Homo sapiens: one gene and its partners. The gene in region 6 interacts genetically with the main gene of each other region. Each region holds a gene or a part of one and is shown on either strand. Other genes may lie near its edges.

Region 1 (3,500 bases), on a different chromosome or scaffold from region 6:
CCTTGATCTTGCACTTTGTGGCTTCTGGAACTGTGAGAAATACATTTCTATTGCTTATAAGCCACCCAGGCTACACTGTTTTTTTGTGATAGAAGCTCCAATACACTAAAACAATCAGTGTCTTTAAAACTGAAGTGGATTTTCCTACTTCTAAACTAGTTTTTATATACTGGAAACTATTAACGTTTGCTTTTACTGTTTCCAGATCTGGAGTTGAGAAATGAGATGGTTTAGAACCTAAAGATAAAGGAAGGAGGAACCTCATCATCAGTGAATACTCTGAATATCCACAACATACTACATCTGCAGGCTTTCAACTTTTGTTGACCTCTTTGGAACTCTATAAGCTCCAGAATGAAGATGGAAAACCAGTGAGCTACATGAATTAAGTGGAACACAGATCAGCATGGTTTCAGTTCCTGGAGGATTGAACATCAAAACAAACAAGAAACAAGGGCAGCTGAAGACGGCTGTTTCCAGGCTGGGCCTTCCAATGAAACCAGCCCAGCACCCTGGAGGACCTGGGCTCACAGGCACAAAGCAGGAGATGATGGAAGATAGTACCGAGGCCAGAAAATGGCACAGAAGAGCCTAATGTGTTAGCAGTGGGGAAATGAATATGACACAGTATTACCTATTGACAAGAAAGACAACAGGCATAGCTCACTGCTAACCCTACAATGACACCTGGTACAAGCAAGGCCAGTGAGCTTGCGAAGAAGTGTGGATGCTGGGGGCTTGTCTAGGCATGGATACCTGAAGCATTGGTGCGAATGTACAAGATCTCACTCTTGGCCCCACGGATATGGTCGTTCTCCACCATGGTGAGGGTCACAGCCTTGACGTAAACGGCGTACTGAGTCCAGGGCTTCAGCCCATGTAGTAAGATGCCGGGCTCCACGTCCTTGTTGGGCGGGAGGTCCACGTCCACCATGTTCCAGCTGTTGGAGCCGCAGGCATCCTGCCCATCATACTCTGTGACATTCTTAAAGGGTCTGAAAGACAATTAAGTTCAGAGAAAGTTCGGGGCTCTGACATCAAAACCCTCAAAAATCTTCCCCAGAGGCCCAGCATGTCACACTTTCTATAATGGGAGGTCTAAATAAACAAATAATCAATTAGACTTTTATAGAAGAAGAAATGAAGTGACTGGACTCTGGGCTTCCCCAGTCGGGCATTACAGAATTGAATGGTCTGCCTCAGGAAGAGCCACTTCAACAGTTACTGGGATTCAATAGTTACTATTCCTTAAGAACATATGCAAAAACTATTTTTCTCTCTTCTGATTGCAGCATTTTTTCATCAAGAAAAAAACAAGCATAGTCAGTTAATGCAAATATCAGATATTGAAAGAAGGTAACTGTTGGAGAAAAATGACTTTCCTACAGACAAACAGAAGTAGCTTCTAAAATTCAGATTGCTCATAAACAATTCTGATGCTTAAGCATCTTATAATATTCAAATATTTAGTTTCCAGATTGCCTTAGAAACCAGCATCAAGTCCTCAGTGAAATTACCAGCTGACATTGCCAAAGCACTGGTGTGACTATCAGAGAATATAGTACTTCGCACAGATGCATGGTTGGGTAGGTATTTTATATTTATCAGCTAAAAGGGCTGGACAGCTGCTGGCCGCTGGCTTCTGAAACAAACATGAACAAAACACCGTCTGCTGTCATGGGATGGGAGATCATGAGGGGCTCCCCTGTGTACAAACTCTGAAAGCCTAGTAATCCTAAGTACCCAATTTCTCATTCATAGGACCCCAGCTCTGGCAGGAGGAAAGAGTACAAGATGCTGTCATAAGGTGCCTCTGGTTGCTGCTCTTTGGAAGCCACACATCTGGGAGAGAGAACTATGGGATTAACATGGGACCTGGGTAAGGGGGATGGCTAAGTAGACCGGGGTAGCCACCTGGATATAGAAGGCAAAGGAAGGAAGAGGGAGATCAAAGAGGGCTGCAGTCGGGAGGAATAAGCCTCGGCTGCTTAGATGGGGGAATGTCATGTGATCACACAGGAAAAGCTCCCAACAGAGTCTAGGAGAAGTCACAAAAGGCTCAAGACATGAAGGTTGTTCTCTCTCCACTTTTCTTCGCTTGTTTGGAAGGCTCATGACCTAGAGCAGAGGGCCACAGCTTGGGAGAGGCACACAGAGAGAGAGACAGGAATAAGATGATACAAAAGAGCCACGTGCCTGCAGGGTGTTCCTGGAGTAGGCCTAGTAGGTAAGGAGGCTGAAACGATATTTCAGTGAAGTCCCCCATCATCGTTCATGAGTCTGGACTGACCTAATTCTGGAAAAAGCAAGCTTTCCCCATTTTGGGTTTATTTTATTCAAACACCTCTAATCACTCACTAAAGAATGACAGGCCTCGAGCTAACACTTTCCCAATCATGGCTGTCACTGGCTGTGACTGACATCACAGGGACAGCCCGAGAGGGTGCATGAGGATGAAGTAGGGATGTTTGGCGTGGCTCTCCCTGGGGACTCTGCTGACCCCCTGTATTCAGCCAGCCCATTCAAGGATCGAAAGACTGGCCTCTCCCATTCGTAGCCCTGTCAACAGAATGGCATCACCCAAAGCAGAAACTCACGCTTCCTTGTAGTAAACGGTGAAGCTGATGAGATCCCTGTAGTCAGGGGGCCGGTACCGGTGCCAGGTTATGATGATGCGATTCTTCGACGTGGTGGTGGAGGTGAAATGCAGGACGTCACTTTCACCTGGGGCAAAGAGTACATCCGTGAGTGACAGAGATTCATGTGTCTCTGAAAAGCACCTGTCTTGCTTGGCACTGCTTCCCCCTTCCCCAAAGCTGGCTGTATATGCTAAGTTCCCTTCTGGGCTTCCTCAGTGGCTTTCTCGTTTTCCACTAAGAAATCATACATTTCACTATGCAGAGCTCCAAGGGCTCCATCCTTTGTTTTAGGTCAATCAGTTACGCTGGCTACTTGCCCAGGGACTTGGACATGAACCTGGGTTTCCTAACCTGAAAACAAGGGGCGACTTCAGTGAACGAGGTGAACTTATCTTTCTTCTCCATCCCTAAGATCCTGGCTATGAAAGGGGGCCTGGTAGGGTGAAGGTGAGCCTTTAGGCTGCCCTGAAACTTCTTAAGAGAGACGATGACACTTGTTCTGCAGTTGTGGATATCTGCCTGTTCGTGTACAACCACCAAAGACAGGTAAGAGACTACAGGTGTGCCACAGAAAGGAACTTTTCTTGGTCTAAACTTGGTATCAAACTGGAAGGACACAGGAACTCCTGTGAGGCCTCCAGCTAGGGCTGACAAACAACGGGAGGCTGGATTAAGCACTGACAAGAAGATCTCACTTGGCCAAGCCTAACGTGCTCTATGGGAAGTAGCCTGGCTGGCGGGTATGGCAGGGAAGCTGTGCCAAGTGTCTCTCTTATTCCTTGGACCAAATTCAAACTACGATAAGGACCAGGGAAAGACTGATGACTGCCCACCCTCATGGAGACCCAGAGCTCTCTGACG
Region 2 (3,500 bases), on a different chromosome or scaffold from region 6:
TACTAAAAATCCAAAAATTAGCCAAGTATGCTGGCGTGCGCCTGTGGTCCCAGCTACTCGAGAGGCTGAGGCAGAATCGCTTGAGCCCAGGAGGCAGAGGTTGCAGTGAGCTGAGATCACACCACTGCACTCTGGGCAAGAGAGCCAGATCCTGTCTCAAAAAAAGAGAAAAAAAAAAAAAGAGGCTCAAAGTCTTTCAGTGTATCCTTGGAGGAAGCATGAACTCGAGGATCAAGCTACCCTGACTTCAAAACATCAAATCCAGGTTCCTGGTTATTTAATATTAGGGAGAGTCACCTAACAGTTTCTTCATCTGTAAATGCTAGATAGCATTCACCTTGTACAACAGCTAAAGGGGTTTAAATGAACTAATGTTTGTAAAATGTGCCTGACTATAGAAGCTGCTCAATAAAGCAAGTTTCCTTTTCTTCCTTGCTCACCAACCTCTTTCACAAAGATAGAAGGAAAAATTGTTTTTTGACTAAAAGTCAACAAGAAGTTACAGCTGATTAAAGTAAGCAATGGCACCCAAAAAGTAAAATTTCCTTTTTATCCAAAATGGAGGTATTGCTATGTTGCCCAGGCAGATCTTGAACTCCTGGGCTCAAGTGTTCCTCCTGCCTCAGCCTCCAAGTAACTGGGACTACAGGCACTGATATGGTTTGGCTCTGTGTCCCCACCCAAATCTCATCTCAAGTTGTAATCACTGAGGGAAGTGATTGGATTATGGAGAAGTGATTGGATTATGACGACGGTTTCCCCCATTCAAGTGATAGTGAATGAATTCTCACAAGATCTGATGGTCTCATAAGGGGCTCTTCCCCCTTCACTTCCTTCACACTCTCTCGCCTCCTGCCATGTAAGACGTGCCTGCTTCCCTTTCTGCCACAGTAAGTTTCCTGAGGCCTCCTCAGCCATGCAGAACTATGAGTCAATTAAACCTTTTTTTTAATAAATCACCCAGTTTTGGTCAGTTCCTTGTGGCAGTGTGAGAACAGAATAATACATGCACCATGCCTGGCAGAAAGAGTAAAATTTCTGATGTTTCCTTGCTACTCTGAAAACTTTCCTGACACTAAATCCTAACAGTACTAACAATACTTTCCTTCATATGTAATTCTCATTACTCCTCATAATCAGAGTAACTTTTTCCCATGTTTGTCTCTCCCATTGTCTGCCTCCTAATGGACTATGTTTTATTCATCTCTGTAACCTCCAAGTGCCTGGTGTAATGTAGACATTTTCATAAAGCCTCATGAATGAACAATCACAGAAAGAGGCCTTCCATGGTGTACAACTGGACTCAGTACCTGCCCTATCTTGCTGAATGTTTTATAATCTAATAAAACTCAGATAAAGACCCAGATGTCACACCTGAACAGGAAAAGCTGAAAGGAAAAGATAATTAAAATATAAATCAACAGAATCAAGATTTTGAAAAGACCTAGAAAACTTGAAGGATTACTGAAGCCAAGCAAGAGGAAATGATAGGATTAAAAGTAAAATCTTGTGTTTAGATTTTTTTTTTTTTTTTTCAGACGGAGTCTCGCTCTGTCACCAGGCTGGAGTGCAATGGCGCAATCTTGGCTCACTGCAATCTCCGCCTCCTGGGTTCAAGTGATTCCCCTGTCTCAGCCTCCCAAGTAGCTGGGATTACAGGCACCTGCCACCATGCCCAGCTAATTTTTTTGTATTTTTAGTAGAGATGGGCTTCACCATGCTGGCCAGGCTGGTCACGAACTCCTGACCTTGTGATCTGCGTGCCTCTGCCTCCCAAAGTGCTGGGATTACAGGCGTGAGCCACCGTGCCCGGCCTGTGTTTAGATTTTTAAAACACCAGTCACAGAAGTGTAAAGTGAGACCCTCTTCTTTTTTTTTTTTGAAACAAGGTCTCGCTCTGTTGCCCAGGCTAGAGTGCAAATGGCACAATCTTGGCTCACCGCAACCTCCATCTCCGGGCTCAAGCAATCCTCCCACCTCAGCCTCCTGAGTACCTTGAACTACAGGGACACACCACCATGCCTGGCTGAATTTTGTGTTTTTGGTAGAGACAGGGTTTCACCATGTTGCCCATACTGGTCTTGAACTCCTGAACTCAAGAGATCTGCCTGCCTCAGCCTCCCAAAGTACTGGGATTACAGGGGTGAACAACTGCACCTGGCCAAGGCCCCTATTTTAATTAAAAACAAGCAAATCGGCCAGGCGCCGTGGCTCACGACTGTAATCCCAGCACTTTGGGAGGCCAAGGCAGGCGGATCACCTGAGGTCGGGAGTTCGAGACCAGCGTGACCAACATGGAGAAACCCCATCTCTACTAAAAATACAAAATTAGCCCGGCGTGGTGGCACATGCCTGTAATCCCTGCTACTAGGGAGGCTGAGGCAGAAGAATCGCTTGAACCTGGGAGGCGGAGGTTGCAGTGAGCCGAGATCACGCCATTGCACTCCAGTCTGGGCAACAAGAGCGAAACTCCGTCTCAAAAAAAAAAAAAAAGAAAAAAGAAAAAACAAGCAAATCAAAAACCTTAAGACCCAAACTAGAAATAATATAGCTACTGAAACAACAAATGGTTGTCTTTGATTAATAATAAGAAAGGGCCATGAGCCCTTGAAGTTCAAGAGAGAAATTCATTCAGGCTCCAAATCAAGACAGGATTTACCTCATGTGTTATATCTCATACTTGATTTAAGAAATCAAATTTAATAAAAGGCATTTATAAAATGTAAGAATAACCCAAATTGCACAAGGTTCTGAAAATATCATTACAGGAAAGAATGAGGACTTCAGAGGTAGAAGAAAGGTTGTGATAAGATCAATCTGAAGGGCAGGCTTGCCAATAAAAGAGGAATTAATCTGATTCAGGCAGCTCTACAAGGCGGAGGAATAAGAAGAGACAGAAGTAAAAGAAACAGGCTTCAGCTCAATATAAAGAATTAACATGTCTCTAAAAGAATCATGTAGTGAGCTGACCGCTGCACTCTAGCGAGGGAGACAAAGTGAAATTTTTGTCTCAGAAAAAAGAAAAAAAGAAGAATCACTAGGAATAAATAAAAAAAATAACTGGCAACTAGAGGTTTTGTGGTTTTTTTTGTTTTTTTCTGTATGTTTTGCAAAGATGAGGTTTCGCCATGTTGCTCAGGCTGGTCTTAGACCTCCTGAGCTCAGGCAATCTGCCCACCTTGGCCTCCCAAAGTGCTAGGACTATAAGCGTGAACCACGACGCCCGGACAGCCACTGCGCCCAGCCTTATTTTGTTTTTGAGACAGGGTCTCTCACTCTGTCCCCAAAGCTGGGGTGCAATGGTGCAATCTTGCCTCACTGCAGCCTTGAAGTCCTGGGCTCAAACATTCCTCCCACCTCAGTCTCCTGGGGAGCTAGGACTACAGGCATGGACCACCACACCTGGTTACTTTTTTTTTTTTTTTTTTGGTAGAGATAGAGTCTCTATGTTGACCAGGCTGGTCACAGGAGCTATGTTGACTCCTGGCCTCAAGTGACTC
Region 3 (3,500 bases), on a different chromosome or scaffold from region 6:
TGGGAGGCTGAAGTGGGCAGATTACTTGAGCCCAGGAGTTTGAGACCAGCCTGGGCAACATACTGGGACCTCATTTCTACAAAAAAAAATCAAAAAATAAGACAAGAGGATCACTTGAACCTGGGAGGTTAAGGCTGCAATGAGCCATGATCACGCCTCTGCACTCCAGTGTGGGCAACGGGAGTGAGACTCTGTCTCAAAAAGAAAAAGAAAGAAAATTATCTTTTTAAGTGATAATCATGATGTTTTTACAGTAAGGATAACTTTTTTTCCCCTTCCTGAGTAAACAGTTTGTAAGGAAATTGAAACTTTTTGTTGTTCTGTGTGGACAAATTTTCATACGCAGTTACATTGTGAAAATTTTTGCAGGAAAACTAATTTTCGGCCAGGCATGGTGGCTCACGCCTGTAATCCCAGCACTTAGGGAGGCTGAGGTGGGTAAATCACTTGAGCTCCAGAGTTCGAGACCAGCCTGGGTAACATGTGCCTGTAGTTCCAGCTACTTGGGAGGCTGAGGTGGGAGGATCATTTGAGCCCAGGAGGCAGAGGTTGCAGTGAACTGAGATCGTGGCACTGCACTCCAGCCTGGGTGATAGAAATAGACTATGTCTCAAAGAAAAAAAAGGAAAAAAACATAATTTCCATATGCAACTACACTGAAAATTTTAAATGTGAAAAATACGTTTTCACGTTTTAAATCCTGTTTTTAGCTGTGCGTGGTGACACATGCCCATAATCTCAGCTACTCAGGAGGCTGAGGCTTGAACCTGGGAGAGGGAGGTTGCAGTGAGCCAAGATCATGCCACTTGCATTCTAGCCTGGATGACAGTGAGACTGTGTCTCAAAAAAAAAATCCTGTGATTTAATATTCATTTTTGTCTATTCTTACTTTCTTACTCAAGTTTTTGAGGCCTCAAATAATTGTTATAGTTGTTCAAAACTGTATTAATCTAAAGGACATTTTATCAAGAAAATTTTAATTCCTTTCTCTGTTCAGGAAACGATTATATATGGAAGTATTTGAATATACTCGCCCTATGATGCATCCTGAACCTGGAAAATTCTACCAGATTAATCCAGAAGAGTATGAACATCCAAATCCCTGGAAAGAGAGTTTCCAGCAGTTGGTATGAAATATAAATAGAATATATTGGTTTATATTATACATTTGTAAATAACTTTCTTTTAAGAAATAAGTTTAGGCTGGGCGTGGTGGCTCACACCTGTAATCCCAGCACCTTGGGAGGCCGAGGTAGGAGGATTACCTGAGGTCAGGAGTTCGAGACCAGCTTGGCCAACATGGCGAAACTCCATCTCTTCTAAAAATACAAAAATTAGCCGGACATGGTGGCGCACACCTGTAGTCCCAGCTACTTCGGAGGCTAAGGCAGGAGAATCACTTGAACCCAGGAGGCAGAGTTGCAGAGAGCTGACATTGCACTGCTGCACTCCAGCCTGGGCGACAGAGTGAGACTCTTGTCTCAGGGAAAAAAAAAAAGTTGAGTAGGTTTTAATGAACATTTATCAACCAACAGAATATTCAGCAATTCTTTTCACTACTGACATATCCCCCCATTAATAAGTTAGTACAGTAAGCATTAGTAGCCTAAGAGCAGTTGTGATTTCAATGGGTCTGTTTGAACTTGTATTTAAATTATTAGTGTTCAGCATTTGTTTTAAAGTTCCACATTTAGCTTAATTGTTATACGGCCCTTCGTGAGTGAGTCTCAGCTGGAGATGATTTTGCTTTCTGTGGGACATTTGGCGATGTCGGGAGACATTTTTTGATTGTCACAATGGGAGGAGAGTGTGCTGCTGCTATTTGGCTGGGTGAGGCCAGGGATACCTCTAAACATCCTACAGTGCACAGGACAGCCCCCATAACAAAGAATTAACTGACTTAAAATATCAGTAATGCTGAGATTGAGAAACCCTGTTCTTTGTTTCTGGATATTACCGGATCATAACTTGTTTTAGATTTTACATTGTACTCTGACAGAAAATTATTTGGAATAGTTGAGAATTATTTTTGATTTGTAATAAAAGTTGTTCATGCAATTGTACATTAATTTAAATATAAGGTTTATGTTAGTAGTCAATGGTTTTGTTTTGTTTTTGACATTTTAGTATAAAGGTGCACATGTAAAGCCAGGATTTGCTGAACATTTCTACAGTAACCCTGCAAGATATAAAGGAAGAGAAAATATGTTGGTATGTTTGATTTTTATTTTTATGACTTAAAATGGTAATCTTTCAGTTCTGTACTGACACATTTATTTTTTTCTAGTATTATGATACTATTGAAGATGCCCTTGGTGGGGTACAAGAGGCTCATTTTGATGGACTTATCTTTGTTCATTCTGGAATATATACTGATGAATGGATATATATTGAATCTCCAATCACCATGATTGGTGCAGGTATTTTGAAATGCATTGTCATTAAAATTTTAATATTTTACTCATTTATGTGATAGGATTTTAAAAATGCTAGTGACTTAAAATCCAGTTTTATAATATCCTGCTGGTAAAGTAGGAATGAAGATATCACACATATTTTAAGTGAAGGAAGTGAAAACATAAGAGTTCAGAAATTATAGCTGTATATAAATTCTTTCTCCCCGCCCCCCCCAACCTTTTTTGTTTTTTTGATGCAGAGTCTAGCTATGTCACTCAGGCTAGAGTGCAGTGGCACAATTTCAGTTCACTGTAACCTCTGCCTCCTGGGTTCAAGCAATTCTCATGCCTCAACCTCTCAAGTAGCTGGGATTATAGGCATGCACCACCATGCGTGGCTAATTTTTGTATTTTTAGCAGAGATAGGGTTTCGCCATGTTGGCCAGGCTGGTCTCAAACTCCTGGCCTCAAGTGATTTGCCCATCTCGGCCTTCCAAAGTGCGGGGATTACAGACATGAGCCACTGTGCCTGGCTGTATATGTTTCCTAATGTTAGTACTTTCTCCATTTGCCTTGAGTTATTCATTAAACGAAGAAAAATAGCTTTTTCATCTTTTATTTGAAAATAAAGATGCAGCCAGGTGTGGTGGCTCACACCTGTAAACCCAGTAGTTTGGGAGGCTGAGGTGGGTGGATCGCTTCAGGTCAGGAGTTAAAGACTGGCCTGGCCAACATGGTGAAACCCCATCTTTACTAAAAATACAAAAAAAATTAGCCAGGTGTGGTGGTGTGCACCTGTAATCCCAGCGACTCTGGAGGCTGAGGCAGGAGAATTGCAAAGAAAGATGCTAATATTTCTATTGCTATGTTTTTAAAGGAACTGAAATAGAATTTTTAAATACTTTTGTACTATTTCAAAGCTATTTATGGTCAGGTTTCTAAGAATAAATGTAATATCTGTCAAACACTGAGTCATTTGAAGATTTGTGGTTTTTTTATTTTGAGGATACAGTACATAGAACATTTTAAGATAGCTAGTAATTATTATTTGCTAGTGAAATTTGCATTTACAGCCTCTTTTGCTTTCTTCCTCTATCTCCTCAT
Region 4 (3,446 bases), on a different chromosome or scaffold from region 6:
AATTCCACAATCTGAGCTTCAATCCTTGAGGTTAATGCTTAGTAATAAAGTTAAACTAAACTATCACCCAATTTAAGCAATTTATACATTGTGAAAAGAGAACAATGCAACTCAGATGAAATTTTCCTAAATCTCCAGTTATGGTAATCTTAGTTAATGCTTTATTGTCACTATACCAATAGTTTTGCATGTATTTAAAATGACGCTACTCATAGTAATTGCTTATCTGCTCAGTGGAGCAATTTAGGACTACCCGGCAGTCTTTTAAAACCTTGGCATTTATGAAGATTAAAAACTTGAATGGTGATATGGTTTAGATTTGTGTTACCTGCCCAAATCTCATGGTGAACTGTAATCCCCAATGTTGGAGATGGGGCCTGGTGGGAGGTGATTGGATCATGGGGGCGGTTTCTCATGGTTAAAACCATCACCCCTTGATGCTGTGGTCACAGTAGTGAGTTCTCGTGAGATCTGATTGTTTAAAAATATGTGGCACCTCCCAATTCTCTTCCTCCTGCTCCAGTCATGTGAAGTGCTGGCTCCCCGTTTGCCTTCTGCCATGATTGTAAGTTGCCTGAGACCTCCCCAGCATCATGCTTCCTGTATAGCCTGCAGAACCATGAGCCAGTTAAACCTCTTTTCTTTATAAATTGCCCAGTCTCAGGTATTTCTTTTTAGCAATGCGAAAACAGACTAATACAAATGGAGATGCCTATTCTTAACTCTTATCAAATAAAATCTGACTAGGTTAATCATCACCTCAACTTAGAGAATCTGAATTTCAGAAAACTTGAGGGGCAATTCTCAAATGCTATATATAATTTGCAAATGAAACTACATTTGCCCCAATATTTTTAATTTTGCAGATAGGCAACTAAAACACAAGGAGATTAAGTGATTTATGCAAATTTTAGTGATAGAATTTCAACTAGATATAGAACCAAAATAATAGAAACCTTGCTTTCAGATTTATTAGTTCAACAACGATTATATTGGCAATGTCATTTTACAATTGAGATCATTGGTAGAATACCGAGACTATAATAAAATAGGGATCAAAAAGATTTGGAACTTTTGAATTTCAAATTCAGCCAAAGGCTCATAGAAGGCAAGCAAAATTAAGTGGGACTCAGGAAAAGAAGAAACTAAATAATTAAAGCAGCTCCAATAATAGCAAACTACAATAACAATGACAGAGGCTAATATTTACTGAGCTTTTGCTAACTGTCAGACATTGTTTTTAGACATTATCTAATGTAATTAGATTCCTTTCAGCATCCCCATAAAATTCTATCATTATGTTTGTTTTACAAATGTCAAAGGGAAGTTAAGGCATTGCTCAAGGTTATACTAATAAGTGGTAAATTCAGGTTGGAACCCAGGCAGTCTGCATATGCTTGAAACTGCTATATATATTTTCTCTTGTAAATCTTATTCTCCATGTTCATATTGTAACACCAGAAAGATATAGCATAAGACCAAAGACAGTCTTGGGTAAACCTGACAGTCTTCTTTTCAGGGTGTCTTCACCCACTCTTCAGTCATCCCTAGCCAGGAATGCAGGACCTTGTGTTACTCTTAGGATGACCACAATCTCTACTGTGACAATGAACCGTGATGTGTTTCCTCCTCTCCACTCTTAAACGTCTTACTCTCATAAAAACAACATCGCACCCTGTCCCACACCCTTAGAGACCTGTTTCTTCTGGGGATAATCCTAATAATTAGTGTATGTTTTGCTATCAAGAGTTGTTCATGTGTTAACCTTGGTGGATAACAGAACTGTTTTCTTAAACCAAAGAAATAACTATTATAATAATAGTAGAGATTTCAGACACTGAGGTGGCCCATTATAAAAATGACAAATGTGACTGTAGGCCTCTGCAAGCATACCAGTGCTACACAGGTGTGGCCCTTTATTTTTCTCATAAGAATGACCATTAAAGATAGCAGCTGAACTTAATGAGCACCGATTATGTCCCAGGCAGTGTTATAATAGTGTGCTCTTCCCTCACCTTGTCTCAACTCATTTAACTATTATGACAAACCTGTGAGGTACTATTATTATTCATATTTTACAGATGAAGAAGCTAAGCCACAGAAAGATTAAGTAAATTTCAAAAAATAAAAATAAAAATCCAAAAAGGAACTAGTTAATGGCAGAGCCACAGTCAGAACTCTTTCAGGCTCTTGAGTATATATTCCCTTAGGATAAACACCTAGAACAATGCCTGCCACAAAGTACGTGCTCAATAAGTATCTGTTGAATGAATATTGCTCCAGGCATAATACCAGCCCAGTAATGGAGACACAAGTCCATGGGTGATATTTAACCCTTAAGATCCATATATAACATTAAGAGGAAGTAATTTTAAAACTGTCTATATCAACCATGGGACAATTTACTGCAAAAGGCTAAAAAGATTACTATAGTGTTAATGTTCGCATTTAGTCACTCTATGCTTCCTCTCTTCTTTCCTTACCTACCACGTGGTTTAAAAGTTCAAATCACATGGCAGGTAAATGAAGGCTTGCAGCTGACGTCCATACTCAGGTTTGATGCTTGACAGGTGGCATGACTGAGAGCAGTCCATGGTTTGCAAAGCAGTGGTTGGCTACATGTAGTATGTTTAACTTTATTCTGTGTTGACATGGCACTGTATCATTTTTAGTACATCGTAAAGCACACAGTAATGGGTAACAGCAAAAATCCTGCCAAAGGATAAAACAGATATGACTGTATTAAAAAAAATTTTAAAAAGGGGGAGGAATCCATTAGTCTGAATTTCATCCCTTAGAAGTAGCCTGAGTTTACATAAGCCTCCAAAGCTTTCTCAGAGTAGATGGGATCTTATTTTTGTCAAAATAGATAGATAGGGGCAGGAGGATATCCTAGTGTGAGAAGTTGGAAGTGGCTGAGAGATCTGTGCACTTTTCCTGTAATCTGCTTTGTTTTACTATACAATAAGAGAATAAGACCCAGGTCTTTTCTTTGTTGTGAGAAACACCAGAAGGATTAATGCAGTAACAGCTGCACTGTACAGCACTCAGCATTGTAAGCTAGATAGAGCCTCTGTGGATGCAAATACTTTTCTTGTCTTCTGCTCTGGGAAGTAATCACAGAGTTCACACCTTGGGATTTCACCCTGTGCTTTCCTCCATGGTACTCTCAACAGGTATCCACTGTTGTTTCATGAGCCACATCTCAATGGAAATTCCTGTCCAGAGCCATCTGTCTGGAATAGTTAACGTAGTTTTTGGTTTTGCCCTCTGGGCTTCCAAAATCTGATTCAAAGTGTAATAAGGGGAGTAGAATTGCGTGCGGATTTGGAATTAGACCAAGAGAGGCTCATGAGAGTATTGTAATAACTGCCATAAAGGGAGGTGTCATAGGGGGAAAAAAAGGATTTTGTATTATGATAACTTTTAATGGCTGAAACTACAGA
Region 5 (3,500 bases), on a different chromosome or scaffold from region 6:
TTTGCTCCTGTAAAAGGAGAGAAATTAATCTCAGCATATTTTTTAAAAGTCAATTATAGTTTCATGTGCATATTTATTTACATTAACGTACTACTTTTAGGTACTGTACCTGGAAGATGTTTTTAGCTGCCTTTTATACTTAAGGCAGTATTTCAAAATCCTAAAGCTGTGGCTTTTCAAATGATGAGAAAACGAAAGACGTACTTTAAAAGTGAAAACAGTGCCTTAAACTGCATCTGAAAGTCAGTGTTAAATGCCAGAAGTTGGCCAGTAAAATCCTAAAGCTGAAAAATAACTTTGTGAACAAAAGTGCATAATTGTTCTTTGTACATCTCCTATAGCCTCCTGGTAACTGTGCAGTTACAGTTTATTTCTTCCCCTAGTCCCCAGTGTTCAGATATTCTCATTCTGACTAACAGAAAACAGTGATTTGAATGGAGTCTGCTATGCTTCACTTTACAAGGGAAAAATTTAGCCTTATAAAATTTAGTGAATGCCAGAGAAGCTATTAAGGCCATCTGTTAATTTCCTGTTTCAGAAAAATAAATTGTGTCCTTTTGTATCCACCAAAATTATCCAGTTTATTGTGATTCAGAATATGATTGGCTTATTAAGAAAAAGGCAAATATTATAAGTGTTTTCGTAGGTAAGCGGTTATTACCTAACTTGTGATTTCAGCCTTTGGTTGTGATAAAACTTTATCATACACAATATTTTAAAATGTGAAAACTAGACTAGTAGACATCTTTTAATTTTAGTGTCAAAAGTTAGCTTATGTATGATACACAAAATAATGTATTGCATTTTGGAAAAAAGAAGGGGATAGGTTAGTTTACTGTCATTTTCTGGTTTGTAAGATACATTAATCTTTTCTTATTTCATGATTATTTTATAGGAAGATCATAACCAACCATTGTTTGGAGTTCAGTTTAACTGGCACAGTAAAGAAGGAGATCCATTAGTGTTTGCAACTGTAGGAAGCAACAGAGTGAGTGTTAAGGGGTCTATTTAGTATTTGGCTTGATTTCCAGATCTGGTGTTAATGTAATATTGAAATAGAATAATTTCAAAGTGCATTTTGTGAAGCTGGTTTAGCAATATGATTCTTTCATGTAAGAGTGAAGGTTTCTAGAAATTAATTAAAACTAGTATGCATGGCTGAAAATACATCTATATTTAATATATTACCCCTAATTATTTATGAAACAGGTTTTATACTTGTATTTGTCTTCATAAATACTTGGTTGAAAGAATTGGCGTCCTTTTTTTTTTTTTTTAATTGGCGTTCTTTTTAAAGTGATTTTGGTATTTATCATTCAAATAGCGTAAGAACTGGCTGTGATTTTTTTAAAATTAAGGTAATGAATGGCTCTATAAATGAAGCATAAATCCAGTGGATTTAAATAAGTTATTGAGATGTTTTAATTACTTGCAGTAAACATTTGAGTTTGCTGGGTTTTTTTGTTTTGAGACAGGTAGTGTTTGGTGGTGATTGTTGTTGTTGTTGTTGTTGTTTGTTTTTGAGAGAGAGAGAGTCTTACTCCTTCCTCCAGGATGGAGTGCAGTGGTTAATCAAGGCTTACTGCAGCCTCAACTTCTGGGGCTCAGGTGATCCTCCCATGTCAGCCTTCTGAGTAGCTACAGGCATGCACTACCATCCCTGGCTAATTTTTTTTGTAGGGATAGGTTTTCACCGTGTTGCCCATGCTGGTCTTGAACTCTTGGGCTCAAGCAATCTACCTGCCTTGGCCTCCCAAAGAGCTGGGGTTGCAGTCATGAGCCACCATGTCCAGCCTTTTAAGGAAATTTTATAATGACATGTAAGGCTCTAGGCCTTTTACTATTTGACAAGGTCAATTCATTGAAACTCTAAATATTTTTAAGTTACCACTGAAGTTGATAACATGAAATAATAGCTTTTTTTCTTCTGTTTTTGGTGTTTAGTCAAATGTAGGTTTTAAGATAATGTAGTCTGCTTATAGTTGTTTAGTTCCTAGATTCTTTGAAAACAACAATTCAGAGGAAAAATTTTGCGGTTTTAAGAAAAGGTTGAGGTTATTTTTTTCCTAGTTGGGAATGTAGTGCATTAATTAAATTTGAGTCCACTTTTAAGACACCACTGTAAACCTAAGTTAATATTTAGCTTTGATAGTATTATAATTGGTATAGTTTGTGCTCCAGTGTGCTGATTGCAGTGTTTTAGGTTTTCTAACAAAAAGAATCCCTATTTTTATTTAAAGTGACATAAAGGGGTGTCATATAGTTTATTGAATTATAAAAAGTTCTGCTGTTAGAATTTCTTTAAAAGGAAGAAAGAAAACAAAAACAATTACCACATAAGACATAACCTAGTTAGCAGCCATATAAAGAATTTTTTTTGAACATTAACATAGAGGAGATAATGAATTAATAGGTTGTGATGATACACAGGATCTTCAGAGGTCTTCAGTACTATTATAAAATAATAATAGGTTTTTGCTAATGTGACTGACTATAAGCTATAAGAAAAATGGGGCCGGGCACAGTGGCTCACGCCTGTAATCCCAGCATTTTGGGAGGCTGAGGCAGGTGGATCACCTGAACTCAGGAGTTCGAGACCAGCCTGACCAACGTGGTGAAACCCTGTCTCTACTAAAAACACAAAAATTAGCTGGGCATGATAGCGAGTGCCTGTAATCTCAGCTACACGGGAGGCTGAGGCAGGAGGATCACTGGAATCCGGGAGGCAGAGGTTGCAGTGAGCCAAGATCATGCCATTGCACTCCAGTCTGGACGACAAGAGTGAAACTCTGTCTCAAAAAAAAAAAAAAAAAAAAAAAAAAAGAAAATGGAAAGAAATTTATAAAAGTTTAGTATTACAAAATTGTGTATGGTGTATGTATAGTTTTAATTTTAGAGTATGCAACAAATGAAAAAGGCTATCATACATGTGAAAGTTAATGTTTGATTATCTGTACCCATGAGAAAATAATTCATTAAGCAAATTGTAGACTTTTAAATATGTAACTAATATGTAAATACTCCAAAACTATCCAAAGACTTATTTTTATTTGAATTTTTATTTTTTATGGTTTTTTTTTTTTTTTGAGACTGAGTCTCTCTCTGTTGCCCAGGCTGGAGTGCAGTGGTGCAATCTTGGCTCACTGCAACTTCTGCCTCCTGGGTTCTAGCGATTCTCCTGTCTCAGCCTCCTGAGTAGCTGGGACTACAGGCACATGCCACCACACCCACCTAATTTTTGTATTTTTAGTAGAGACGGGGTTCCACCGTGTTAGCCAGGATGGTCTTGATCTCCTGACCTCGTGATCCACCCGCCTCGGCCTCCCAAAGTGCTGGGATTAAAGACATGAGCCACTGTGTCCGGACTTATTTTATTTTATTTTTTTTTGAGACAGAGTTTCGCTTTTGTTGCCAGGCTGGAGTGCAATGGTGCAATCTCGGCTCACTGCAACCTCCGCCTCCCGGGTTCAAGTGATTCACCAGCCTCAGCCTCCTGAGTA
Region 6 (3,500 bases):
GGACCCTGGATGGGAGGTGCGTGCGTGGGGCTGCACCCCAGCCCCTGTGATGGTGTCTCTGGAAGCTGGAGATGGTCGGCATGTATGCTTGAATCCTGCAGAGGGAGTTGAGGGTTGGAGATTTGTCTGCGAGGCCTCTGCGCAGGGGCGGCCTCACAGCACACTACCAGGGTCTTAGGCTTGGCTGAGTGGCCCCTTCTGGCCTGGCAGGCAGTCGTCTCAGCCCACGCCTGCCATGCTGCTGGGCTGGTGGTGGCCGGCTCCTGTCCTGGTCAGCCTGATGTCAGCTGCACGTTGGGGTCAGCCTCGGTGCTGTGTCTTCATGCCAGAGCAGGGGCCAGGTGTGGGCAGCTCAGTGACACCCTCCCGAGGGCTGGGCGATCGTGTGCACTCTCAAGCCTCTACTGGAAGGCTTGGCCCTCTCAGGGGCCCCCTGCCCCTGTGCATTCAGCCACTGGGGTTCGTGCCCTCAGCTTCCCGCCAGGCCCTGGCCGTAGCGGTCAGGAAGAGCTGAGCAGTTTTTTTGGGAGAATTGAGGGAGCGTCGCCAGGATGCACTGAGGGTCGGAGGTGGAGCCGGCGCGGCTCAGTGCAGGCAGTGCCAGGCTGGATGCTGGAAAGCCAGCAGCACCTCTCCCGGTGGCTCCTGGGAAGTTCCACGTCCTTGCCTGGTCACAGAGGCCCGGGAATCAGTGACATGAGATAGAAGCTTCCAGAACAGGAGGCAGAGCCTTTCCGCAGTTTCCCTGCCCACAGCACACACCCTGTGCCCTCCGTCCCCTGGTTCTTGGACACTGGGGACATCTGGATGCGGCTAGAGCCTGTGGGGGTGGCCGCAGCCCTGGGGGACTGTTCCCAGGAGTAGGCCTCGGGGCCACAGGGGCGCGGCCTCGGGCCTGGCACTGCAACCTCAGGGTGAGCGCCCTTCGTGTGTGCGGCAGGAGCCGGGGCCCCTGGCTGTCAGCAGGCCCCCGAGTCCAGGTAGGTCCCAGACAGCAGTCCCGGGTGTGGCAGATGCAGTGAGGTCCACTTCTGAGGCGTTCCCTGGAGTCTGTGAGTTCTGGTCGGACCTTCGATGGCATTTTAATGTGTCTCTTGTGTTTGATTTTTAGTAAGACTTTGACCCCGACGCAGGCTTCAGTGATTGCCGCGGATCAGAAGCCTGAGCACTTTGGCTCGAGACAATTAAGGACGTGGGATGAGGCTCCGAGACAGGACGCGGTTCTGCCTGGGGATCCTGAAGATAAAAAGCTTTGAAAAGTCGAATTCATGGTCGTGGAAGCTGAGCCCATATTAAGAGATGTCAGGTTGGTAGGGGTTCCTGGCGTCGGCGGCAGAGTGAAGCCGGCCGGTCTCTTTGCGACCGTGTGGAGGAGGCACTGCCTCGGATCAAGTCGAGGGACCTGGGCTGCATGGGCGTCGGGCCGGACTGCTGCCACCTGACCCCCGGTGTGCTCTGGGCGAGGTCAGGTGCCCCTCGAGGGAGGGCTTCCTGCACACCTGGTGGCAGAGCACAGCTGTGGTCAGGCCTGTCCGTGGCATCTGCTGTCTGTTTCTGTCGGAAAGTGTCTGAGAGGCACGGAGGGCCTCCATGTGGAGGCCGCCAGCACGAGGGTGGAGCCCCACACGGAACCCTGGAAATCTCAGGTGTCCACCCGGCTGGCCCAGGAGCAGGGCCGTGGCCCCTGTGGAGCTGTTCCTTGTGGTTGGTCTGCGCTCTCTGGCCCGGAAGTGCGTGCAGTCGGAAACAGCCTTGGGCTTGGGGGATGCTGCAAAGCCTGCTTCAGCACAGGCCGTGTGACTGTGAAGCCTCCTGGGTGTGTCCCCAAGCCTGCAAGGGTGGGCTGTCCGGGGAACCCTGGCACGGTGGTCAGGGGCAGCTCATGGGTGATGTGAGGAGGCACCTTGGGTGCCTGAGCCTGATGGGGCTTGGTGTCTCCACCTGCTCCCCCCTCCCCACCGTTCAGCTGAGGGACCCGGTTCCCACTCACCCAGCACCCGGGAGTCCCCCACGCGGTTCCGACGAGGGACCCGGTTCCCACTCACCCAGCACCCGGGAGTCCCCCACGCGGTTCCGACGAGGGACCCGGTTCCCACTCACCCAGCACCCGGGAGTCCCCCACGCGGTTCCGACGAGGGACCCGGTTCCCACTCACCCAGCACCCGGGAGTCCCCCACGCGGTTCCGACGAGGGACCCGGTTCCCACTCACCCAGCACCCGGGAGTCCCCCACGCGGTTCCGACGAGGGACCCGGTTCCCACTCACCCAGCACCCGGGAGTCCCCCACGCGGTTCCGACGAGGGACCCGGTTCCCACTCACCCAGCACCCGGGAGTCCCCCCAGGCGGTTCCGACGAGGGACCCGGTCCCACTCACCCAGCACCCGGGAGTGCCCCACACGGTTCCGACGAGGGACCCGGTTCCCACTCACCCAGCACCCGGGAGTCCCCCACGCGGTTCTGACGAGGGACCCGGTTCCCACTCACCCAGCACCCAGGAGTCCCCCCAGGCGGTTCTGACGCAGCCGAGCGGTCTGCAGTGATCCCGTGTGTCCATGCCTTCCTCATCAGAAGTGAAATCCAAGGATACTGAGAGCGGATGTCTATCCACTCACTCAGAAACAGCAACATAAACCTTTCTGCTCATGAGAAGTCATCACCACCACACACAGCGGGGAGGGAGGCCACGTGCAGAGGGAGGCCATGTACAGTGTCACTGGGCGGCCTGTCTATGGTGCTCGTGGGCAGCTCCCGTCCAGAGGGAATGAAGGAACAGGCGAACCAGGACGCGGTTTTGACCGTGCAGACCTCACGTTTGGGATCTGGTTTCCTATCTTGAAGGAAAGTGGGTGGAATGGCCAGTGGCTCCTCCGAGGACGCCAGGGCGCGAGGACCTCACGGGAGGGGCATGGGCCCAGCCGTACTGGGAGCCCTCGGCTTTGGGGTGGTCAGTGGAGACCCATGCCCCGTCCCCTGCAGGCGTGTGCTGCAGGCCCACTGCACCCCTGGGCTGTCCACCAGAGCATTTCTTTTCTCTGCCATGGGTTCCAGGAGGCACTTCCCTGCTTCCTGGATACTGGCAGCTCGGTGGCCTCTGCTCACCTGCAGGCGGATGGGGCAGCGGATGGGGCGGGAGACTGGGCCGAGCGTGCTTGTGGCCGCGGCCACTGGAGAGCCTGCTGGGTCACTCTGCTCCTTGGTTCTGTCGTGCGCCTCCCCTCCTGCTGGCCGAACGGTCCTGGGTACTGCTTGGTCTCCTGTGGCCGGTCTTTGGAGGAGGAGGGGAGGGACCGGCTGGGCCCTGGCCCCAGCTCCGCCTCTGCCCAGCTGCCGTGGGGCTGACAGTGGCCCCACCTGGTGCTCCCTGCCTGGCACGGGGCGGTCGGGCGGTGCCTGGAAGCTGCCATGCTTCTGTGACGCCTCAGAGCCCTTATTTCTCCAGTTGGCCCCGATGAGGCTTAGTTGCGTCATACGCGAAAGGAATGGGTGTTAATGAGCTTTA
Region 7 (3,500 bases), on a different chromosome or scaffold from region 6:
CAAACTGTGCTCCTTTCAACAAGAGTGAATGCTATTAAGCGGCTGCAAAAATAAAAGCACCACTAGAAATGCTTTCTTTAAAAATTGTTTAATGAAAATCACACTCAACACATTCACATAGCTCTCTCTCTGCATTTCGTGCTTAACAACATAATTTCTTCAGTCGCCCCAGTTGTGATGTTCTTTCCAACCTCGCGTCTTTCCACAGGTCTGGAATGCACTGTCCTTTTTCCGTCTTCACCTGGCCACATCTCTTTACCTGTCTTTTAGGTCCCTGACTGTATTAGTCCATTTTCACACTGCTATCAAGGTACTACCTGAGACTGGGCAATTTATAAACAAAAGGGGTTCAAGTGACTCACAGTTCTGCATGGTTGGGGAGACCTCAGGAAACTTACAATCATGACGAACCTCGGGGAACTTACAATTGTGACGAAAGGCAAAGGGGAAGCAGGCACCTTCTTCACAAGGTGGCAGGAGAGAGTGCAGGGAAAACTGCCACTTTTAAAACCATCAGATCTTGTGAGAACTCCCTCACTATCACAAGAACAGCATGGGGAAACAGCCCCCATGATCCAATCACCTCCCACCAGGTCCCTCCCCTGACACGTGGGGATTACAATTCAAGATGAGATTTGGGTGGGGACACAGAGCCAAATCATTATCACTGACACCACCCCTGAAGCTGGGAAAAGGGCACATGGGGATTCACTGTACCATTCTCCATACTTTTGAGTATTTGTGAAAATTCCATAGTAAGGTCTTTTAAAAACCACTCTTTATACAAGAAATGAAAGACAAACATGGTGGGTTATCCCAACCACACCAGTCCCACCTGTCCATGAACCTGAACTGCAGCACATCCACTAACGAATATGTAGCATTGCCCACTATCTCACAGATGTGTCCTCAATAACCCCTGGCCTGTTTTATGTGTCATCATAAAATTTCATATATTGAAATATGTGAAACTCATTTCACTTAATCTGAAGCTGAAAGAAGTATTAAAGAGCTGGAATTATTTCCCAAACTCCCACTGGTGTTAACAACATGACATTATTTTCAGTGTTCTCTGGGACCAATACATTCGGGAAATCTGCAAGAGTTGCTGTTTTATTTTTTATTCATTTATTTTTTTTTGAGACAGAGTCTCGCTCTGTCACTCAGGCTAGAGTGCAGTGGCGAGATCCCAACTCACTGCAACCTCCACCTCCTGGGTTCAAGCAATTCTCCTGCCTCAGCCTCCTGTAGCTGGGACTACAGGCACATGCCACCATGCCCAGCTAATTTTTTTTATTTTTAGTAGAGATGGGGTTAACCCCCTGAGGAGTATTATAGAAATGTCATGAAGACAGGTTAGCTGACAGTCTGTCCCGTGCACCGCAGGGACAGTCAACAGCAGGAACACAATGTCAGCACCCCAGCTCATAGAGGAACTGAATTCTATCCACTCTCCTCTGAGGACCCAGCCCTGGGAAACTGACTCAAACTAAGCTGGAATGCCAACTTATTAAGTTACAATGAGAACTATAACTTGGAGGAAAACCAAAACACTCAGTGTCTGCAGTTCAAGTTTCCACCAGAAAGCTGCTTGGTAAACACTAAAGTACAGCATTAAGATAGTTAGATGCCTCAAGTCATAAAAACCTGAAACAATGGTACTATAAATACCAATCATCCTAGGTTTTCTGGGATAATCTTCAGTACTCTTATCATGAGACCAAATGCTGTGAGTTACTATTTCAAATACATGATCATCCCTGCCAAGATAGCGGCATCTCCTCCTTTTCATGTACAGGGTTCTATATAGATCACACCTTTCCAATAACATACTTACCTCAAAAATCACTCGAATCTGTGCAGTTTCCTTGTCTTATACTGTGGTTTTGAGAAAACATGCTTGTCTGGTTGGATTCAAGAAGCACGCGTGTCCAGCAGACTTAGAAAGCAGGTTCCTCTTGTCATACAGCACGTTAACATAGCTGACGAGGCCTGGGTGTCTTCATCAGTACTGTGATGACTCTTTCACCTTTGACTTCAGATGCTGGCGCTTTTTACTTTTTGTGCCAAACTCTACACATGAAACACTTTTGGAATAACTACAGACATGACTTTCTTTATCTGGGGAAAAGGAGGGCATTAAACCAGATTAGGGGCTGGGAGGGGAGGTTGTCAGGGGATGAGCTGCTCCTGAGGAAGAGGCAGAGATCAAGCTTCACTCAGCAGCTGGATTCTCACCTAGTTTATAGACTGAAATCCTGCAAGGTGGTTACAACAGTGAACAATATGTTCATACATAAAGACTCTACCCTCAGGGGATCTACTGTTTTTTGGTTTTTAAGAGACTGAATAGTAATACATACATACATACATATGTGTGTGTGTATATATATATATGTATGTATGAGTATATATATCCACAGGCAGAGTCACTCAAAAATTCTATTTTCTGTGTACTCAAGTATTAAAATGAAAGGGCAAGACTGCTGCCACTCAGCTGCCACATGCTTCTTCTACGAACCCTGGTCCTTCTCTGCCCATTACTCAGAAGACAGGCTGAATGACACAAACAAAAATCAGATGTAAGTTGAAAAATCAAATTGGATTTTATTGAAATGTATATAAATAACCCTCATTTTTCTTTATTTCATCAGTATTGGGAAATTAAGTGAAAAGTAATTAAAAAGTAGTAGTCCTGAGAGAGAGAAATGAAGGCTGAAAGGGAATCAAGAAAACCATATTCCATCCCAGATCTGCCACTACCCAGTCTGGGAAAGGCATTTATTGTCCTGGCCTCAGCTGTAGAATGAGGTGGCTGAAATCTATGTTGTCTGGAGTCAATTACAGCTCTACAATCTTGCTGTTCTAATTCTACCATTAGGAGCCAATGCTAACGTTACATACTGACCATATAAGCAGGTACTCAAAATGAAAAGGGAATAAACACTGAGTTCATGGGGACACTTTTAAGGAAGACAAGAGAAATACATAAGTTTGCTGCTTAAAAAATGCATTAATGTTACTGCTTTATTCACACTAATTAGAATACATACACAAAAAATGTGTATCATATATCACTTTCAAAAATTTCCATGTTCCATGAGAACTATGTAAACAATGCAAAATGTTTCCACTACGTAACAAAAGAAAATCAGCATTCCCACATAGTATTAGGAAAATATTTGGATAATCTGAATTTATAGTAAAACAAAGTGATCTGAATTTGTAGTAAAACAAAGTGAAATATTACAAAGCAGTCTTGTCATGAAGTAGCCTTATATAACTCAGAAGCAACACATTTCATACTTTCAAACACTTTGGTATAAGTGAAATTAATAGAAAACAAAAAGAAGAAGAAAAAAACCTCTACTTTGGTTTTCACATTATTGGAACTTCAGCAACAAGGCAAGTGCACAGCTACCTTGGATGACAAAATGGAAAACCTCTCATCTGCTTGCTTCTCCTCCTGGAAATGGACGTGCTAGGAGAGCGCTTCCCAG

What was found.
Region 1: changes in CTBP1 (region 6) and IGF1R together harm fitness less than expected from each alone (positive genetic interaction), as found in Homo sapiens cells (one large-scale study listed by BioGRID).
Region 2: changes in CTBP1 (region 6) and RAB1A together harm fitness more than expected from each alone (negative genetic interaction), as found in Homo sapiens cells (one large-scale study listed by BioGRID).
Region 3: of CTBP1 (region 6) and FBXO11, changing one suppresses a phenotype caused by changing the other (phenotypic suppression), as found in Homo sapiens cells (one study listed by BioGRID).
Region 4: changes in CTBP1 (region 6) and FUT8 together harm fitness more than expected from each alone (negative genetic interaction), as found in Homo sapiens cells (one large-scale study listed by BioGRID).
Region 5: changes in CTBP1 (region 6) and EED together harm fitness less than expected from each alone (positive genetic interaction), as found in Homo sapiens cells (one large-scale study listed by BioGRID).
Region 7: changes in CTBP1 (region 6) and SEC23IP together harm fitness more than expected from each alone (negative genetic interaction), as found in Homo sapiens cells (one large-scale study listed by BioGRID).

What each region holds. Positions count from the first base shown.
Region 1 is NC_000015.10:98,910,539-98,914,038, reverse strand, and holds part of IGF1R (insulin-like growth factor 1 receptor isoform 1 precursor), read right to left. Parts: intron 2,725-3,500; coding exon 2,598-2,724; intron 996-2,597; coding exon 757-995; intron 1-756. UniProt on the Homo sapiens protein: Receptor tyrosine kinase which mediates actions of insulin-like growth factor 1 (IGF1). Binds IGF1 with high affinity and IGF2 and insulin (INS) with a lower affinity. The activated IGF1R is involved in cell growth and survival control.
Region 2 is NC_000002.12:65,092,107-65,095,606, forward strand, and holds part of RAB1A (ras-related protein Rab-1A), read right to left. Parts: intron 1-3,500. UniProt on the Homo sapiens protein: The small GTPases Rab are key regulators of intracellular membrane trafficking, from the formation of transport vesicles to their fusion with membranes.
Region 3 is NC_000002.12:47,833,499-47,836,998, reverse strand, and holds part of FBXO11 (F-box only protein 11), read left to right. Parts: intron 1-997; coding exon 998-1,127; intron 1,128-2,127; coding exon 2,128-2,211; intron 2,212-2,287; coding exon 2,288-2,420; intron 2,421-3,500. UniProt on the Homo sapiens protein: Substrate recognition component of a SCF (SKP1-CUL1-F-box protein) E3 ubiquitin-protein ligase complex which mediates the ubiquitination and subsequent proteasomal degradation of target proteins, such as DTL/CDT2, BCL6, SNAI1 and PRDM1/BLIMP1.
Region 4 is NC_000014.9:65,737,730-65,741,175, reverse strand, and holds part of FUT8 (alpha-(1,6)-fucosyltransferase), read right to left. Parts: intron 1-3,446. UniProt on the Homo sapiens protein: Catalyzes the addition of fucose in alpha 1-6 linkage to the first GlcNAc residue, next to the peptide chains in N-glycans.
Region 5 is NC_000011.10:86,251,253-86,254,752, forward strand, and holds part of EED (polycomb protein EED), read left to right. Parts: intron 1-895; coding exon 896-988; intron 989-3,500. UniProt on the Homo sapiens protein: Polycomb group (PcG) protein. Component of the PRC2/EED-EZH2 complex, which methylates 'Lys-9' and 'Lys-27' of histone H3, leading to transcriptional repression of the affected target gene.
Region 6 is NC_000004.12:1,239,131-1,242,630, reverse strand, and holds part of CTBP1 (C-terminal-binding protein 1), read left to right. Parts: intron 1-1,111; 5' UTR 1,112-1,299; coding exon 1,300-1,306; intron 1,307-3,500. UniProt on the Homo sapiens protein: Corepressor targeting diverse transcription regulators such as GLIS2 or BCL6. Has dehydrogenase activity. Involved in controlling the equilibrium between tubular and stacked structures in the Golgi complex.
Region 7 is NC_000010.11:119,941,230-119,944,729, reverse strand, and holds the end of SEC23IP (SEC23-interacting protein), read right to left. Parts: 3' UTR 73-3,500; downstream 1-72. UniProt on the Homo sapiens protein: Plays a role in the organization of endoplasmic reticulum exit sites. Specifically binds to phosphatidylinositol 3-phosphate (PI(3)P), phosphatidylinositol 4-phosphate (PI(4)P) and phosphatidylinositol 5-phosphate (PI(5)P).